4 linked regions of the Homo sapiens genome follow. Changing the gene in region 4 together with the main gene of any one other region gives a genetic interaction. Each region holds a gene or a part of one and is shown on either strand. Other genes may lie near its edges.

Region 1 (4,973 bases), on a different chromosome or scaffold from region 4:
AGTTGCAAAAGAAGTGCCACCACTTCAACAGAAAGGTACAGAACAACATTGTTCATCTTTCCCACAGACAACAAATATAAATTCTTCTTTAGCATCAGTTTTTGTCAACTCACCAGGAACTGTTTCTACCCAACTACCAAATACAGCTTTCAACAAAACAATTACACCTTTATCAAATATAAGTAGTGCTAGACCACAGCCTTTGTCGCCTGTAACCTCTGTAAGTAACTTATTAACACCATCAGTTAAGACTAGCCAGAGTGAGGCAGGAAAAGCCAAGAATGCAGTTTCAGCAGCCACATTCTCCTTGCCCAGTGCTTCACCGACCATTTCCTCCACAGGTCAGCCTCTGTCATCAACAACAACACTAAATGGGTCTACAAATCCTGGTAGTTCCTTCAACTGTTTTGCACAACAGACTGCTGATTCTTCTGAAGCAAAGCAAGAGCTGAAAACTGTGTGCATAAGAGATTCACAGTCAATTCTTGTTAGGACACGAGGTGGGAACACTGGAGTTGTAAAAGTACAGACCAACCCAGATCAAAATTCACCCAATACTGTATCTTCAAGTTCAGTTTTCACTTTTGCTCCTCAGCTGCAGGCATTTCTGGTGCCAAAATCAACAACTTCTTCCTCTGCTTTTTCACCTGTAGCTGGAACAACTACTACATCTAGTCTTTCACCTTTTAGCCAAACACCAACTTCTGTTTCCATTCCAGCTAGCTTTGCCCCATCCATGGGGAAAAATCTCAAACTTACATTAGGCCACACCACTGGCAGTGGTGATTTGGGCCACGTGATAGATAAAACTTCACACATGCCCTCTTCTCCCTTGAAGTCCTCTATTTGTTCTAGTACTCTACTACCATCAACAACAAGTAGTTCGGTAAGTGTAATTAGCATATCAGCAGCAAATTTTGGACAAAACAATGCAAATATTATTCATACTCCAACTAAACAGCAACAAGTAGATTATATCACAAAAAGTTACCCTGTTACAAGGTCAGAAGCAACAGCAGCAACAAATGGAGATGTAATCAGTGGGACTCCAGTTCAGAAACTTATGCTGGTATCAGCTCCATCTATTCTTTCTTCTGGCAATGGAACTGCAATTAATATGACACCTGCGCTGACATCTACAGGTGTTTCTGCCCAGAAATTAGTTTTTATTAATGCCCCAGTTCCTAGTGGTACATCAACCCCAACTCTTGTTGCAGAATCATTAAAACAAACTCTTCCTCCTCCATTGCATAAAGCATATGTTAAGACTCCAGAGCAACCCCAAATAGTACTGATTCCGTCTACAGTGGGCACACCAATAAAAATAAATTCATCACCAGCTGTGTCTCAGATAAAGGATGTGAAAATTGGACTAAACATAGGTCAAGCAATTGTAAATACTTCAGGCACTGTGCCAGCTATACCATCAATTAACATATTACAAAATGTAACCCCAAAAGGAGAAGACAAAAGTAGCAAGGGCTATATTTTGCCATTGTCAACAAGTGGTAATTCAGTTCCAGTAAGCTCAAATTTTGTGAGTCAGAATATTACCCCTGTTAATGAATCAGTGGTTTCTTCAGCAAGAGCAGTAAATGTGCTTTCAGTTACCGGAGCAAATTTATCTTTGGGTTCCTTTCCAGTGACCTCAGCCTCTGCTTCAGCTGGGGCACAACCTCCTGTTTTAGTCAGTGGAAATGATACCTCTTCAAGAATTATGCCTATTTTGTCAAATAGACTTTGCTCATCAAGTCTCGGAAACACTGTGGCTATATCAACTGTGAAAACAGGACACCTTGCATCATCTGTTCTGATTTCAACTACACAACCAGTAGTGTCTCCTAAATGTTTAACATCAGCTTTGCAAATTCCTGTTACGGTTGCCTTACCTACACCTGCGACTACATCCCCTAAAATAATAAACACAGTTCCACATTCGGCAGCAGTACCAGGAGCCACACGTTCTGTATCTATTTCTAAAAGACAATCTCGGACTTCACTCCAGTTCCATTCACCAGGGATTTCAACTACAGTGCCAACAAATGTAAACACAAATAAACCTCAAACTGAATTGTCGTCCCTTTCAACAAGTCCAGGTAAAATAACTAATACGTCCAATTTTGCTTCTCTGCCAAATCAGCAAGCTTTAGTAAAAACCCCCAGTTACAGTTCTGCTCCAGGTGGCACTACCATTCACACGGCTTCGGCACCATCCAATGTAACTAGTCTAGTCGGGAGTCAGTTCAGTGAACCTTGTATTCAGCAAAAAATAGTCATCAATACCAGTACACCTTTGGCACCTGGTACTCAGATTATGATTAACGGAACCCGGTTTATTGTTCCACCACAAGGTCTTGGAGCTGGCAGCCATGTTCTCCTTATATCTACTAATCCAAAATATGGAGCCCCCTTAGTTCTTAACAGTGGCCAAGGCATTCAATCTACACCAATAGATAACTCTGCCCAGAAGATCACACTAGCATCAAATAATTCCTTAAGTGGCCAACCTCTACAACATCCTCTAAGAAGCCCTACAAAATTTATAAACTCTTTTGGGAATGCAAGTTCTATACCCACAGTACATACATCACCACAACTCATAAACACAACTGCTAAGGTTCCTGTTCCACCTCCTGTACCAACAGTATCACTGACTTCAGTAATTAAGTCTCCAGCTACTCTTTTGGCTAAGACATCTTTGGTTTCTGCCATTTGCCCCAGTAATCCTCCACTGCCAAGTAGCACTTCAGTGTTTCATTTGGACCCACCTGTCAAAAAATTGTTGGTTAGCCCAGAAGGAGCCATTTTGAATACCATAAATACTCCAGCATCTAAGGTTTCTTCACTCTCTCCATCTCTCTCTCAGATTGTTGTATCTGCCAGTCGAAGTCCTGCGTCTGTCTTCCCTGCTTTTCAGTCGTCGGGCTTAGAGAAGCCTGACAGAGCTGCATCTTGAATTTAGACTAAAAGAGCCAGTTTTTAAATAATGGGGCATTGTTTTGACTCCCATAAAAATTTTCAATGTTTATTATACTGTTGAAAGCATACTATACATTGTGTGTGTGTGTGTGTGTGTGTGTGTGTGTGTGTGTGTGTTTTAATGTATCTTTTCATTAGCTTGCAACAAGGCTTTGTTTTCTTGGGGAGGGAAAGATCTGTTCCATTTCACTTACTGTTCTGAGGAGGGTTTCAAGGTTCTGTGTTTAAAGTCAGGATTTACCTGTCTGTAGAACATAAAGTGAACAAAGTTTGAATAGTTTAGAGTAAGCTAGCCTTTTGCACATTTACATTGACATGTTTCTTCTTGAATTTGGACTGTTGCAGCATATCTATGATATGGTATTCAGTGTCATTAGTGAAATCTTATTTTTGTTTCTGTAAAAAAAAAAATACATATATATATTTATGCATTGTGAAAAATGCAGTCCATGATGTAAAATTGTACATATTCCAGAATCCCTAACAACCTGTACTAAATATATGTACAAAGAACTATGCTGTCTTATTTATGTTTTGTTTACATAATGTATAGTTTTTTAAGTATTTTAGTAATTTTGGACCAGTGAACTGTTAGCAACAATGCAGAAGAATCTGCATGTAATAAACTGAGTTGCTGTATTTCTTTGTTTGAATACCATTTTTAACGTGTGTTCTTGTTCCATTGAAAGAATACAGGATGTAATTGAAGACAGTCCTTTACAAGAAAGAATTAAGGGTGGGAAATTTGAATTAGAGCTAGCACTTGTACATGGCTTTCCAGCTTACAAATACTACTTTCACTTAAATCTTGTGTTTCAGAAAATGCCTTTTTTTTTTTTTTTTTTGACTCACCTGTTGCCCAGGCTCGAGTGTAGTGGTGCAGTCTCAGCTCACTGCAACCTCCACCTCCTGAGCTCAAGCCATCCTCCCACCTCAGCCCCCCAAGTATTAGGTTGGTGTGTAAGTAATTGTGGTTTTTTTGCCACTAATGCCACTAATGGCAAAAAAAAAAAAAAAAGCCACTAACGGCAAAAAACCACAATTACTTTCTCACTAACCTAATAGCTGGGACTACGGGCATGGGCCACCATGCCTAATTTTTTAATTTTTTGTAGAGATGGTTTCACCATGTTGCTAGGCTGGTCTTGAACTCCTGGTCTCAAGAGATCCACCTACCTTGGCCTCCCAAAGTGCTGGTATTACAGGCATGAGCCACCGCACCCAAGAATATGCCTCGTTTTAAATAAAAGGTAGCTTTTATATTTATTGGATCTTTATATCCATTATCTTGAGCTACTGAACTGTATACTCATCCTTCCATTTATAATGTTGTTAAACTTCATCACATGAAGTTATTGTTGGGGGTTGGAAATGATATGGAAGCATAGGCCTAAAGATTTCCTTTGAGACTACATCAAAGTGTATTTGTTATCAAAGTGGAGAGGGTAGTGAAAATATTCCTAGAAAGTCACTAAAGGCTCTCAGAAACCGCTATTTATGCTCTAAGTACTTTTCCTAGTCATGTTTATGCTCTACTCAAGTCACTCTCCCCGTTTTTCTGTCAGTTAAGAAAGCCCTGGGGAAGTGGGTGATATTTCAAGTGCATTGCATTGCGCATTGATGGTGCTCAACAAATGGCTGTATTTACCTACTCAGCTTTTAAAACAAAATGACCCAAAACTGTTTGCCTTTTGTCTCAGAAGAATTCTCTTAAGCCATTTTAAGAAACTAATTTACTGAATTACCTATGGCCCAACTTTAATCCCAGTGAAGGACCTAAACTAACCACTAAATCTCTCTCTTTTTTTTGAGACGGGGTCTTCTCTGTTGTCCAGGCTGGAGTGCCATGGTGCTATCTCAGCTCACTGCAACCTCTGCCTCCTGGATTCAAGCAATTCTCCCACCTCAGCCTCCTGAGTAGCTGGGATTACAGGTGTGCACCACCATAGCCCAGATAATTTTTGTATTTTTAGTAGAGATGGGGTTTCACCATA
Region 2 (5,512 bases), on a different chromosome or scaffold from region 4:
ATTATAGCACACCTAATCTGGAAGAATATGTTTCATATGAAGAAAAAGGTATGTGCTTGTATATGTGTATATAAAACACATAAAGTAACGTTGTTATGAAGCTGTACGTGCAACTAAAATATTAGAAGTCTAACTCATGTGAATTTATTTCAGTAGCAATAATATAGAAAAAATATGGATAATCCTTTACATATTGTTATAATGGGATACAACTGAATGATGAAAAAAGAAACTTCATTTTAGGGGTTCAGGGCTATGGTGCTAATTTCAGCTATTTTCTAGAGCGAATTAAACTTTACATTATTTTCAAAATTGAAATAGTGCACAAAATTTGTCTTTGTAGTAGTGGAAAAGAAAATAGAATTGCAGAGAAAGGAAGGAATTAATTCAGGCCTCCAAAAGATCTTTTCTAAGCCTTCTGCAGGTAGTCAAAAGACAAAAAAAAAAAAGTTAGTAAAAATGTAAAACAAAAATTGTTTAAGTTAAAAGAAAGATCCCCCAAAACAAAATCTGTAACTTGAAAGAAAGGCAGATATGCAGAATGCTGTACAATTTATCCTGTCATTTTTTGATGTATATGCTATAATACAAATTTTTATATGGATGATAATTTATCATCAATAAAAAACTTATATGTCTGCTCTTTATAAGCCATATGAAATGAGGCATAGACTGGAGAAATGACAATGAATTATGATCAACAAAATATCACAATTTGAATTAAGACTTGATATACAAATACCGATGAGAAAAAATTAAAATTAAGAGTTAAAGAAACAAAGTCAAAATATAACTATGCAGTCTTAGGTATAGTTCTTATTTTCAATTAATCCACTGGCATTCTGTTTTATAAAAATATTTCTCACTTCACTGAGGATAGTGCTGTGATAAAATATAAATGATTAACAGTTTACCTTTGAGATCTTCTACAGTTTCCTGTGCTGACAACTCCTACACAAATGAAAGAAACAAAAATCAATAGATGACTCAGCTGACCGTCCATTTCCAGACAGTCGGCAATAACTGACAGCAGTCACTGATTTTCTAAATGGCATGTAGGGGAGAGACAATACAGTGTTCACTCTCCTTAAGCTTCTATAAAATGGGGCCCAGAATGGATACAAACATATGTAAATGTGGACATTCAACCGAGACAACTGTACTGTGACAAAGGGAGATTTGCTACTAAGAAAGTAAGCAAAGAAGGAAGAAGCCACTACTTACACTATAGTGAATGGAGCTCAACAAAGTTAATCTAGAAAAAAGGTGATTTATTGACTTCCCAAAAAGACAAGTGTGATTTAAAATGGAAAGCAGAGGTGATATCCATTTCAGGTGGAAGGCACTGCAGATATGATGACTTAAATGAATGACAACAGAAAGAAGCAAAGGCCTACATATTGGTTCTCTGCCCAGTGTGGTTGACCCAGCAGCGCAGGTGGACGGCAGGGAAGGCCAGAGAGTGTGCTTTGAACACACGACTGGGCATTTATTTTATGGTCCCAAGGGCACCCTTCAGGCCATTTCCAGACCCTGGGATGTGATATTCCACTGTACACGGGCCAGTGATTACAGCATGCAAGCTACAATCACTGCTGCTGAACACTCCCATTCTAGGTGAGATCAACATCGAAATCACATGAAGAGGGTGAAACAGGAAAGAAGACCACTAACCAATGGCCCAGAAGAGTGATGAGAGGTTATGCTTTGCCCTCTGGAGCTGCAGCGGAGGGGAGGCGTGGAGAGGTTTCGACTGGCCTCTTCCTTTTTGCCATTGTGAATCTGCCTATTATTGCTAACCCAACATGAGAAACACAAGAGCAGTGAGCGATATTATCAAACAGAAGCATGACTCTTTTAGTACTAGTCTAAAAACTTTTTTTCCTAGAGTCCATTTTGTTATATTCCTTACATATAAATCTTTTTTTGTTGTTGTTAAGAGACAGGGCTTCGCTCTGTCTGGGTAGACTGGAATGCAGTGGCACGATCATGGCTCACTGCAGCCTCAAGCTCCTGGACTCAAGTGATCCTCCCACCTCAACCTCCCAAAATGCAAGGTTTACAGGCATAAGCCACCATCTGCAGCAGATAAATCTTATAATAAACATTATTTTTAAATTAGAGGACATGCTATCTTAAGGAGCTATAAGAAATAATACAAGAATGGTGAAAAGAATGCTAACTCAAGAATTACTCTTAATATTTCAGTTCTATGTAATGTATTACTTTTATATCAACAAACACAAATGCTGTTCTTTAAAATACTCTGGCATGCTCTAAGCATTTAAATAACAACATTAAAAGCAGTGAAGGGAAATTTTTTGCAGTGCTAAGCCTAAGGCAAATGAATTCTAGATCTTATGAGAAGGTCATATTGACTTCCCAAAAAGACATTTATTGGGAAGCCAGTTAAACCATCTTGATTATGAATATCAATTTTATGCTTAAGTATATGCTGAAATATAAGAAAAATGCATATATTTCTGTCTGCCTATACTAGTAATTTCATAAACACTGATAAAAAACTTATTTTAATCAAGAGCAAAACATTTACATTTTGAAGTGTCACATTAATTGAAAATATTACCTTGGATTTCTGTGATTAGTTATGTGTTCACCTTTGGCCTCCTTGTCTTTATTTGGCTTTTCTTCCTTTCTGGAGGGCTTTTGCTGAATTACTTCTCCTTTGTCAAACATGAGGTGTAGGCGATAACTGACCAGTTTGATTATTGTGAAGAATATAGTCACTGCACTGCAGTAGAAAAATACAATGATCGCATTTGGAGGAAAAGCCTGAAGAAAGGAAAAGACAGAGAAAAATCATTTGCTTTTAAGATTTTCTTTCTGTTTTAAATCTGGAAGCATTTTTAGACTATCTATTGAATATAAATTAGGCAAGATTTCAAATTAGACTAATTTTTTAAGTTTTCCTGGTTAAAATACTTGAGGAGAAAGAGCTGCTTTTTATTTTTTGAAGTCTTTTTTGTTTCTCAGGTTCTGTAGTAGTTGCACTGATAACCAACATTTGATTTGCAGGCAGGAACCCCACAGAACAAAAGATATATTCGAGGAAACCTCTCCATTTTTTTTTTTTTTTTTTTTTGAGACAGTGTCTCACTGTATCACCCAGGCTTGAGTGCAGTGGCAAGATCTCGGCTCACTGCAACCTCCGCCTCCCGGGCTCAGACAATTATCCTGCCTCAGCCTCCCGAGGAGCTGGGATTACAGGCATTCACCACCATGCCCGGCTAATTTTTGTATTTTTAATAGAGACAGGATTTCATTATGTTGGCCAGGCTGGTCTCGAACTCCTGACCTCAGGTGATCCGCCCACTTCGACCTCTCAAAGTGCTGAGATTAAAGGTGTGAGCCACTGTACCCGGCCTCCATGTTTGATAAGCTCTTATCTATGGCCTAATCCAATGCATCTTCCTATGCAGCTCATCTTAAAGGCCAGAGATGTATTTTGTTTTCAACAACAAAACACAAAAAGCCTTGTGGAGAACAGAAGGAAAAAGAAGGGAGAAAGGTTAGGGTAACCACTCCCCCATTCCCCTCCCTAACCTCCCACTGCGATAACGCCTGCAGGCCATGGATTTCCCTAGGGTTGTATTGCACACAGGGAACCACAAAAGGGTACTACTTCCAAAAGGAAGAGGGATATTTCCAGCAGAGACAAATGATCTGAGCATGGCGACCATAGTGAGGTTCAGCTCAATTCTATGCAATCCCTTCAAGAAACAAAACGAAAAGAATCACTGGGACCCGTGGAGTTGTCCCACTCTGTAGCATCTCCCATATACCTTCCTAATTCTCTCCAGGACCATGGACTATCACACGTTCTCTGGTCCTTCCTAAACTACATTCCTATTCTTTGGGATGGAAAGAGATCCCCAAGTGTCCCAAGGTGATATCCAGGACAGCCTCAATGATTCGCAAGACCATTTTATCAATGGACTTCCCTAAAGAATATCAGAAATCCAGTGATCCGTGTAGCTGGTGCCTCAACCTAAACATAGCTAGGCTTGCAGACAGCAGGGCCCAGTCCATATCCATGCCTAAGCAGACCCTGTACAGCTTGCCGTGGTCCCATGCAAGAGTCTATCTTCCAAGTTGGACTGTCCCTAAAATGGAATAGCCAAACAGAGCACAAAAAAGAAAGAGGAAGATGATCAACAAGTAAAAGATAAAGTCAGAGATTTTCACCATCACTTAACTCGCTCTTATTATGTCATGGGGGGAAAAGTCCACAAATAAATATAAAGCAAGCAATAAATAAGTGACGGAATAACTATATAAGATGATACAAGCTAGATAATAAAGCCAGGTCCACTACCTGGCAGCAGATAAGGTTTATATTTACAAAAGGTGCATTTGTAAATATAAACCTTATATTTACATCCTAAATACTACTAATACGTTAAAATACTACTAATTTAAATACCACTAAATTAAATACTACTAATAGTTTTGGGTTTCAAAAATTTAAGCTAAATCTAGAGAGTTAATTTGAAGAGGGTAAGAAGGAAAAGAAAACCTGCAGATGTCCGTGAAAACAGATTATTGTTATATAAAAATGATATTCCGCCAGGCATAGTGGCTCATGCCTGTAATCTCAGCACTTTGGGAGGCCAAGGCAGAAGGATTGCTTGAGCCCAAGAGTTCAAGAGCAGCCTGGGCAACATAGTGAGACCCCCCCTCCGATCTCTACAAAATTTAAAAATTAGCCAGGTGTGGTGGCATGCACCTATAGTCCTTGCTACTGGGGAGGCTGAGGTGGGAGGACCTCTTGAGCCTAGGAGTTCAAGTTTACAGTGAGCTATAATCATGCCACTGTACTCCTCCTGCCTGTGCTACCAAGTGAGACCCTCTCTAAAAAAAAAAAAGGAATTATATTCAAGAGATTGTTGAATTTTCATGTAACTAGGGTTTCATAGTACTCTAGTCAGCAAGGGTAGCAAAGAGAGTTAGTGATCACTAAATACTCCATCCTCTCCTCTTCATTTCCTAGCTTCTCTTGCAGTGAGGCTGAGGCCATATGACTACTTTTGCCCAATGGACAATGAGCACAAGTGCTGGCTTAGACAATTATGAGCTAGGTGCCTCCCGCATCCCACTCTTTTCCTCTTTACTTGGTGACCTCAGAAGACATGTTTTCCAGATGATATGTCTATAAGATGATGCAGTTTCTTTCAGACTAGGTACCTGAGTAACTCTGCGGAGCAAGGCCCCTATAAACACAAGATGAGCCCATAACGGAATAAGTAGTAAACTTTTGAGTCATTAAACCACTGAGATTTGGAGTTGTGGCCGCTGTGGAAGCTAGCAATACTTAATTAATAACAGGGGGGTCCATTTTCATGAGGAATCTTCCATTCAAATTAGATTAGAGATAAATTGAGAAAACCCTAAGGCACTGAGAAAAGAATGGAAGGGAAGAAGAGTAAGAGATAAAAAATTGTATAGGGCTCTTGGGAAAATTCACTTAGAAAAAAACTGGCATGCCCCAATA
Region 3 (5,512 bases), on a different chromosome or scaffold from region 4:
CAGACGGGGTTTTCACCATGTTGGCCAGGCTGGTATTGAACTCCTGACCTCAGGTGATCCGCCCACCTCCGCCTCCCAAAGTGCTGGGATTATAGGCGTGAGCCACCGCGCCCGGCCAAAAAAGACATTTCTAAGAAGATATACAAATGACTGATAAACACATGAGATGTTCAACATCAGTAGTCATCATGGAAATGCAAATCAAAACCAAAATGAGACATCATTTCACGCCTACTGCAGGATGACTATAAAACATATGACAAGTGTTGCAAGGATGTGGAGAAAGCAGAACCCCATACACGCTGGTGGGAATGTAAAATGGTGCAGCTAGGTGCTTTAGAAGAGTCTGGCAGTGCCTCAAAAGGTTAGTCAGAGTTACCATACAGCTCAACAATTCCACCCCTAGGTATATACCCAGGAGAAATGAAAACATAGGTCCAATATAAACACTTGTACGTGACTGTTCACAGCAGCATTATTCATAAGAGCCAAAAAGTGAAAACCACCTAAATGTCAATCAACTGATGAATGAATAAGCAAAGTGTAGTAGATCTATTTTGAATATTATGCAGCAATAAAGAAAATGATGTAATGATAAATTCTACAACATGGACAAACTTTGAAAGCATTATGCTCAGTGAAAGAAGCCAGTCACAAAGTCATGTTCATATTCTGTGATTCCATTCATATGAAATATCCACAACAGGCCTATCTATAGAGACAGAAAATAGACTGGCACTTGCAAAGGACTGGGAGAAATGTATAGAACAGGGGGTGACTGGTAAAAGGTGGAGAGTTTCTTTTTCAGGTGATGAAATGCTTTAAAACTGACTATGGTGATGGTTGCATAACCCAAGACTTTGGACTGTACATTTTAAATGGGTAAATTATATGGTAGCTAAATTACATCTTGATAAAGCTGTCACGTTAAAAAAAAATCAAACTAGATTATAGACATTTGGGGTTTTTCACCCCAAGGTAACAAAATAAGTTAAGCCGTCCATTACAAGAAGTTTTCCACTTGGTAGATTTACTAATAGAAATCCAACACTGGGCTCTGTTTTCACATACCTCCTATCTGTAGCTCTGGACAACCCATTCGTCTCATCTGTGTGCTGACAGACTCAATCTCTTGAACAAGTGGCACTAATATTGTCTCATTGATCCACTAGAAGAAATAAGGTACAGATTTTGGATACATAATTCCCAAGTAGCTGTCAAATAATTACTTTCTTTTTTACAAGCAACTCTAAGAATTTTTTTTACTATCTTATAGTTGAATATTAAAAGAATCATAAAGTATAGTGAAAGAGAATGAAAGTAATAGCTACCCGAAATCAAGAGATGGTTAAATAAATATGCCACTGGAGTGTAAATTAACTAACTTACATTCCTTTTTTTTTTTCGAGATGGAGTTTCGCTCTTGTTGCCCAGGCTGGAGTGCAATGGCGCAATCTCAGCTCACTGCAACCTCCACTTCCCAAGTTCAAAGGATTCTCCTGCCTCAGCCTCCTGAGTAGCTGGGATTACAGGCACCTGCCACCACGCCCAGTTAATTTTTTGTATTTTTAGTAGAGACGGGGTTTCACCATGTTGGCCAGGCTGGTCTTGAACTCCTGACCTCAGGTGATCCGCCTGCCTCAGCCTCCCAAAGTGCTGAGATTACAGGCGTGAGCCACTGCGCCTGGCAACTAAATTACATTCTTAAATAACATGTTTTTATTTTTTTTCCTGAAAAAAAAATATAAAACTTTTAGCTATATGTTAAATTTTTCTTAAAATTTTCTGATTATTATGTTTAGCTAAAAGGATAATCTTCAGTTTACATTTGTAGGGTAACTATTCACACATTTATTAATGTAGTGTTTATATTGGTTTGCAATCAGTAAGATAGTTTTTCAAACTAACATAACTGCCTAACTCTCAGCAGGCTCACCCAATTCCCTAACCATGTGGAAAAACAGAGACTTATTACATTTGAAACTGGCTTTTGAATATTACAATATTACTTTAGGACTGGGACTTTCAAATGCCTTTTCCATGGCTAATATAAAACTAATGCTGGGATGTGAAAAGACTAAGGATACATCCCATCTGGTTTGTGTGTTATTATTTTGTGTATGTGTTTGTAGCAACTTCAATTACCACTTCTGTTTCCATGCTTTTGTTTATCCATAAAATAAAAGGATGAAAAAATGTTTCCAATGAAATACAATATTATAAACAACTGAAACAAAAACCTTCTGGGAACTTAAAAGATTTCTTGTAATCCATGTAAGGAAGCAAATTTTGATATACTGGCAAGACTTGAACTGAATTCACATGAAGCTATTTATAGGCTTTATCCCACTGAGTGTGACTATTCATATGTTTTTCTGCAGAAGTATTAATGTGGTTGATTACTGAGTGTTAACTAGACTCTGGTGTTATAAATTATACGGTACAGGTATACATGTATTGCTTAAAAAAATCCAAAAACTCTAAATTTTATAGCACATGGTCACCTAGGGACTTCAGATGAGGAAATGTATTTGTATTTCTTCTAAGTAGCTAATACTCTGTCTGACTAAGACTTCATATTTTAAACATGTTAGCATTTTTAGACTAGCCTATAACAGAAACTACAACAAACTCCAGTTTCAGGAGATGATTTGACTCATTCATCCTTCCAACATTTACTACATGCATCTTAATTTGCCAGCTGTGACAAATGGTACAAAAGAGTACAGCTGTACTCTTTGGCTGTAACAAAATTACCTAACGTGTCCCAGAGAGAGGTCTAGGCCCCACCCTTATAAATTCTAATTGAGTAAGTCTAGGATTGGGTTCAGGAATTATCCATAAAATGCCATCCAGGTTTCTGTTTCAATAAAGTAGGCTACCATTTTTTGCCCCTCTATTTTGATGCCCTATTTAAATAAGAGTAAAAGGATAAAAAATGAGCACAAGTGATTTCAAAATAGTTCTAGAAGATGCAGAGTGGATGGATGAATGTTGAAGGATGAAACAACAGAAGTAGTAGCCCCTTCAGAGCTAAGTGGAGCTCCGTATAGTGGAAGGGGAAGTCCATATGCCTAACAGAACCCAGAACACACAGGTACTAGAGAAGGTGGGAGGAAGACGTGGAGTTGGAAATAGGGAACTCACTCACTCTGTATATGGAAAAGTTGGCCCAAGATTAGAGGGTTCTTCTCTAGAAAAACAGAAATCATAATCTACTTTGAAATAGCTTCAAGCATATGTTGTCTTATCTCTCTAACTCTTTAAGTTTTCTGAGGGCAAGGACCTCATTTTTGTTTCCCCTCACAATTCTAGGTAAATAAAAGGCTCCAATAGAAAAGCTCTTTGGAAAATAAAACTGAGAACTGAAAAGGGAGGATCTCAATAACTAAACATATTATTCCTTTATCTTCTCAAAACATAACAATTCACTAAATATGGAGGAAGAAAAAAATCTCATGAAAATAAATACCATATAGTAACAGTCATGTTTATCCTTATATATGTACCATTCATACTGTACCTTTATAACTAATATTCTAATTTATAATGAACTCTAAATGATATTCTAATAACATGCTTTGCATATTAAGAGGCACTAATATTGTCCAAAGAGTAATGTCAGAACTTACATTTCTAAATTTAGCTGTCCATGAATCCATATGATCAAGAAGTTGTCTATTCATAGCCACTCTTGCCCAGACCTATAAAAATTCATGTTTAAAATGAACAATCAGTGAGGAAAAATCTTGATAGAAATCATCATTCTTTCTCCCATCCTAAAAAATATTTAATGAACTTTGAAAAAAAATTTCCCAAACATCAATATTCATCTAATTAATATTCAGTAATTTTCTTATTACTCACTTATAAATGCTGTTCACACACAGATTTATCTTTAAAAGTTCCTTACATTGGTATGTGTAAAGAACATTTTTCTTGCTTTTTTTTTTTTTTTTGAGATGGAGTCTCTCTCTGTTGTCCAGGCTGGAACACAGTGACGCAATCTTAGCTCACTGCAACCTCTGCCTCCCAGGTTCAAGCAATCCTCCCGCCTCAGCCTCCTGAGTAGCTGGGACCACAGGCACACGCCACCATGCTGGGCTAATTTTTGTAACTTTAGTAGAGACAGGGTTTCACCATGTTGGCCAGATGGTCTCAATCTCCTGACCTCGTGATCCACCCGCCTCTGCCTCCCAAAGTGCTGGGATTACAGGCGTGAGCCACTGTGCCCAGCCCATTTTTCTTGCTTTTAAGAACAAAATAAAAATTCCATATTTGGTATTAAAGTGACGAAATTACTGACAAATATTCTAATCCAAATATATTTTAAAAGCAAGACTTCTGTATGTGTTAAGTACAATTATATACCTGAGAGCCTTTTTATAATCAATGTAAAAATATGTTTCAGGCAGGGCGCTAAGGTGAACTGTGTGTCACAGAGTAAAATGTATGATATAATTTAGTTTTTAGTTTTAGGCACACAAAGTAAGACAGGAGCTTTCCCACTGCCTAATGTGTGCCAGATTTACATTTCTGTCCAACAGAATGGAAGATTACAGAAAAAATGTTCCAGAAGTAGAAGACTTTCTAACAATGCATAAATCATAAATATTAAGTCACTTTTATTTTCCACTTACCTCTTCTGCGGCTTGTTTAGAGCTGAGATCGGCTTCATCTTTGTTAGCACATGGGGCCTGAGACCTACAGGCAAGCTGATACTGAAACTTCTTTAAAGTTTGTGCATAATCCCCCATAGAACGACTATAGTTCCAGAAAGTAGGACTGCTGGAAGGAGAGGTAGAATCTGGGCTCCCTACAATTGTTAAGATAAACAGTATCAGTGTGTTGTAGCAATTCTGACATCTACAGTTAACACTTATATCTAGGCAATGGCAATCCAGGAATCAGAAGACCAACCCTCAAGGAGATTCTCTTCTCCCCAACATAATTTTCTCTTTAGAGATCACAGTCTGCTTGTGATTAAAAATTTTAAATAGTATTTTCTGAGCCATATCAATTTAACAGTCATAAAAACAATAAGCAGTCAAAGGCATCTGTCTAGTTCTGTTGAAAAGTTAAGCTCGTTTCATTCTCTAAGACTTTTAAATCATTTAGTAAGAAACAAACAAAAGACAAATTTCTTTAGGAAATAAATAGGCCAAGCAAGTTCTTTATTTGAAATTTCTAGAAGCTCTTTCTAAAAGGGATAACTATAGCCTCCTACTAAAAGATTACTCTCCTGGTAACAAGCTAAACTTATTTGTCCCTGTACTTCACTGTGTTTTACTTAACAGCCTGTGGTAATTCCTGAGTTGTACTAAAAGACTATCTGATGGTTATCCTTCTAAATTTATAAATTTACTTTTAAGAAATGTAAAAAAAAGTTCTATTTAGGAATGTACTCCTACAGAGGCCTCTGAACCAGGATATTAATCACACTTCCGGGTTATAGTTTTTGTCTGTTTTCCCAAATAGAATTTGAGCTCCTTGAAAGCAGGGAGCATTTTTT
Region 4 (4,122 bases):
ACAGCATTAGTGAAGACAGGAGGAAGGAAATTGTCTGAGACACACTTCTTGCAGACCTGAGAATGGCGCTGAGCAGGCCCAAGGAACTGCTCTAAGAGCCAAGAAGACCAGGAGGAGCAGGAGCCACTGGGGTCATTTGTGCAGGGCGCCAAGGGGGTGGTGAGGCCAGCCCAGCTGGGGGCAGGCAGGAAAGCCTGCCAGGAATGAGTGAAGAAGGTAGAGCTGTGTTGTCCCCTCTGCCTCCCAGGTACTCATTGACCCCAGAGGGCCTGGAGCTGGCCCAGAAGTTGGCCGAGTCAGAAGGCCTGAGCTTGCTGAATGTGGGCATCGGGCCCAAGGAGCCCCCTGGGGAGGAGACAGCAGTGCCAGGAGCAGCTTCAGCAGAGCTGTGAGGAGGAGGGCAGAGGAGTGGGGAAAACAGGGAGGAGGGGATGGGAAATGAGGCCAAAGCCCCGCCCCAACCCATCACCTGCAGCTGAACTGTGGCTGCCTCCCTACTGTGGGTGGGTGGTGGGTGTCGGGTGGCATGGGTGTGGGGCAACTGCCCTGGCACAAGGGGTTCTGGCCTCACATACCAACACCCCCCACTTAGTGCCAGTGAAGCAGGGGTCCAGCAGCAGCCACTGGAGCTGAGGCCTGGAGAGTACAGGGTGCTGTTGTGTGTGGACATTGGCGAGACCCGGGGGTGAGTGAGGTGGGGAGAAACGAGGGAGATGATCAGAGGAGGCTGGGGGGTAGGCACTGCCCTGCTCTGATCTAGGCTTCCCTCCTTGCCACTCCAGGGGCGGGCACAGGCCGGAGCTGCTCCGAGAGCTACAGCGGCTGCACGTGACCCACACGGTGCGCAAGCTGCACGTTGGAGATTTTGTGTGGGTGGCCCAGGAGACCAATCCTAGAGACCCAGGTGAAGGGCCGTGGACAGGCTGGCACCAGGGGCAGGGCCTGGTGGGTAGGGGATCGCAAGCTAACGGCTGGCTTGTCAGCAGCAAACCCTGGGGAGTTGGTACTGGATCACATTGTGGAGCGCAAGCGACTGGATGACCTTTGCAGCAGCATCATCGACGGCCGCTTCCGGGAGCAGAAGGTAATTTTGCTGGCTTTGCCAGGCTTCCCTGCCTGCTCCGAAGCCCCGTTTTCAGCCCAGAGCAATCCAGGGGCACTTCTGGCAGCCTCCTTGAGGCAGAGCCCTTTGGAATCCAGCCACACCCACCCTGTGGCTGCTCCAGGATCAGACCCCCACAGGCCCATCCAGGCGCACAGTAGGAAGCCAGGTACCTGCATTCTTGGGCTGAGGTCAGGAGCATTTTAAAGACCTCTTGGGTACCCAGCCCCTGCAGTCTTGGATAAACAAGGCATAAACCTCCAGGAGTGGAAATACAGAGGCTGTACCTTGGTACTTGCTGCTGGGTGGACCCCTAGTCACAGAGGCCATGTGCCGGCCCAGGGGAGGCTTGAAGGATGGGCAGTGTTGAGAGATGGAGAAAAGGCTTTCTAGACAAGAGTGTCAGCATGAGCAAAGCTGCGGAGGCCCCTGTGAGGCAGGTGGAGAGGCTAGGGAGGATGCAGAGGCTAACTGGTGGGAACAGGGTCCCGGCACCATTTTGAGTGTGACATCATGGATGCCCAGGCATGTGGTCATCCAGCCTGACCCTCCCTGTCCACTCTGTACACTTCCCTAGTTCCGGCTGAAGCGCTGTGGTCTGGAGCGCCGGGTATACCTGGTGGAAGAGCATGGTTCCGTCCACAACCTCAGCCTTCCTGAGAGCACACTGCTGCAGGCTGTCACCAACACTCAGGTGAGCTGGGAGGGCAGGGCCAGGCAGGCAGGCAGGGGCCCCTGTGGTCCATGGTTCATGGTCTAGGCCAGGAGCCACCTTCCCTCTCTTGGGTCCTCTTCCCCAGGTCATTGATGGCTTTTTTGTGAAGCGCACAGCAGACATTAAGGAGTCAGCCGCCTACCTGGCCCTCTTGACGCGGGGCCTGCAGAGACTCTACCAGGTGAGCAGAGGCCCCTTTCCCAGTGTCGGGACAGAGCCCACAAGGAATTCACCTTGCCTGGGCCCTGTGCATCCCCAAAAGAAGCAAGGTGGGTGAGATCCCCATTTCTCAGGCTGGCCCCCCAAGGCTGAGGACTGGGCAGGGGCTGGCTGGAGTTGTTCCTTCGAGCTCCAGCCTGGCCTCAGTCCCTTCTTCCCTCAGGGCCACACCCTACGCAGCCGCCCCTGGGGAACCCCTGGGAACCCTGAATCAGGGGCCATGACCTCTCCAAACCCTCTCTGCTCACTCCTCACCTTCAGTGACTTCAACGCAGGAGCCATCAAGAATAAGGTACTGTCTCTGCCTAGCTTCTCAGACATGGCCTGGCCCAGACCCCCACTGATCCAGCCCTTTCCCGAACCCAGGCCCAGTCGGTGCGAGAAGTGTTTGCCCGGCAGCTGATGCAGGTGCGCGGAGTGAGTGGGGAGAAGGCAGCAGCCCTGGTGGATCGATACAGCACCCCTGCCAGGTAGGCCCTAAAGGGCCCTTAGGTGTCCTCAGCCCCTGCCCTCCATGCATGGAATTCACCTTAATCCATGCTTCGTGGAGGGGGCCTGGCCTTGTGTGGGCTCTGCAGACCAGAGATAGACAGATCCCAGGGTGCTCGTGGAGGTCAAGTGGGGAGGAAGCCAGCAGGCCCACATAGTGTCCCAGGTAGTGGAGGCCACAGGAGGGAGGGAGACGTCCCACCTGGTGGAGAAGAGGCTTCCTGGAGAAGGGGTTGGGCCATTAAGGGGAGTGAGGGTGAAGGTTTGGAGCCTTTGCTGGTTTTGCCCCAGAGTTCCCACAGGGAGGGAGGACAGCCCGGCTGGCATGGGGCCTTGAGTGCCAAGCTCAGGAAGTGGGGCAGTGTCCCAACTCTTCCATCCCATGCTGACCCCTCTGCCTGGCCCCTCATGGTGCTGGCCCAGAGTGGGCCACTGTCAGCCTCAGAAACTCAAACCCCTGCCCCCCAGCCTCCTGGCCGCCTATGATGCCTGTGCCACCCCCAAGGAACAAGAGACACTGCTGAGCACCATTAAGTGTGGGCGTCTACAGAGGTGAGGGCAAGAGACGGAACCTGGAGGGAGTGGCAGGGACTGGGGCTGCCCTAGGCCCAGGGCGTGACCCTCGCTGCCTCTCTTCCTGCAGGAATCTGGGGCCTGCTCTGAGCAGGACCTTATCCCAGCTCTACTGCAGCTACGGCCCCTTGACCTGAGCTTATGCCGTGAAACAGCCCCCAGCCCCCGTCTGTCCCCCAACCCAGGCTAGCCAGCCTTTTAACAACATCTTTTGGGGTACAATTAGAATCTAAGTGTTTGCAGCCATATGTGTCATGTAGAAGATGCCTAGCCCTGGGGACCTTGTGAAATACGCAGGAACCAGGGATACCATCTGGTCCAGTGGTTTTTAAACAAAGCTGCTTAGCACCTGGAATTCCCTGGTCAGGGAGATGGAGTCAGTGGGGCATTGCAGCTTGGAATCTATTTTATGTCACCAGTTGGTCCTCATCAAATAAAATTTCCTTAGGAGTGCAGAGGGCTCATTGGGAAAATAAAAATAATAAAAATAAATAAAACTTCCTAAAAGAAAAGATTGAAAACCACTAACAGTCCAGTTGCCTCGTTTTATAGAAAAACAGGCCCAGGGAACTACTAGGGCTTATCCAAATGTACAGTTTGAGGCAGAGTTAGGAATGGAACCCAGGGCCTCCTGGCGCTGTCCAGAGTGGAGTTTCTTAGGACCCCTGCAAGCCAGCCAAGTCCAAATCTCTGGGCCGGGGCCTGGAGTCCGCCCTCCTCGTTACCTCCTCTCCTCTCGGGGTGACTGAAGCTCGTGGTGCAGAGCTCCCAGCTCCTGTCAATGGGGGCCCCTGGGCCTGAACATATAGAGACCCCCATTTAGGTGAACTTGGCCTGCCCCCCCAAGTGCCACCCTGCCCCAGCCTGAGGCTTCCTGCAGTGTGACCCGCCCACCTCAGCCACCAGGACTTTCTTTCTCCCTTTATTGCCTTTCTCATTCTGCCCCTCACAACAGGCTCCTCAGCTAGGGTAGCTGCAGGGAGGGTGGCTCCCTCCTGCTCCTCAGAAGGTGTAGGCCCCTACA

The links. A genetic interaction does not mean that the proteins touch.
Region 1: changes in MUS81 (region 4) and BRD10 impair growth when combined (synthetic growth defect), as found in Homo sapiens cells (one large-scale study listed by BioGRID).
Region 2: changes in MUS81 (region 4) and PCNX2 impair growth when combined (synthetic growth defect), as found in Homo sapiens cells (one large-scale study listed by BioGRID).
Region 3: changes in MUS81 (region 4) and TMEM209 impair growth when combined (synthetic growth defect), as found in Homo sapiens cells (one large-scale study listed by BioGRID).

The regions. Positions count from the first base shown.
Region 1 is NC_000009.12:5,917,667-5,922,639, reverse strand, and holds the end of BRD10 (uncharacterized bromodomain-containing protein 10), read left to right. Parts: coding exon 1-2,956; 3' UTR 2,957-3,618; downstream 3,619-4,973.
Region 2 is NC_000001.11:233,260,371-233,265,882, forward strand, and holds part of PCNX2 (pecanex-like protein 2), read right to left. Parts: intron 2,794-5,512; coding exon 2,588-2,793; intron 1,796-2,587; coding exon 1,675-1,795; intron 952-1,674; coding exon 915-951; intron 1-914. UniProt on the Homo sapiens protein: May play a role in tumorigenesis of colorectal carcinomas with high microsatellite instability (MSI-H).
Region 3 is NC_000007.14:130,180,552-130,186,063, forward strand, and holds part of TMEM209 (transmembrane protein 209), read right to left. Parts: intron 4,817-5,512; coding exon 4,641-4,816; intron 3,705-4,640; coding exon 3,633-3,704; intron 1,169-3,632; coding exon 1,072-1,168; intron 1-1,071. UniProt on the Homo sapiens protein: Nuclear envelope protein which in association with NUP205, may be involved in nuclear transport of various nuclear proteins in addition to MYC.
Region 4 is NC_000011.10:65,862,818-65,866,939, forward strand, and holds the end of MUS81 (structure-specific endonuclease subunit MUS81), read left to right. Parts: intron 1-247; coding exon 248-388; intron 389-592; coding exon 593-685; intron 686-760; coding exon of another isoform or gene 761-782; coding exon 783-904; intron 905-983; coding exon of another isoform or gene 984-986; coding exon 987-1,084; intron 1,085-1,679; coding exon 1,680-1,796; intron 1,797-1,902; coding exon 1,903-1,998; intron 1,999-2,199; coding exon 2,200-2,328; exon of another isoform or gene 2,329-2,329; intron 2,330-2,402; coding exon 2,403-2,506; intron 2,507-2,993; coding exon 2,994-3,077; intron 3,078-3,168; coding exon 3,169-3,235; 3' UTR 3,236-3,622; downstream 3,623-4,122. Other genes in the region: EFEMP2 (EGF-containing fibulin-like extracellular matrix protein 2 precursor), read right to left, coding at 4,101-4,122. UniProt on the Homo sapiens protein: Catalytic subunit of two functionally distinct, structure-specific, heterodimeric DNA endonucleases MUS81-EME1 and MUS81-EME2 that are involved in the maintenance of genome stability.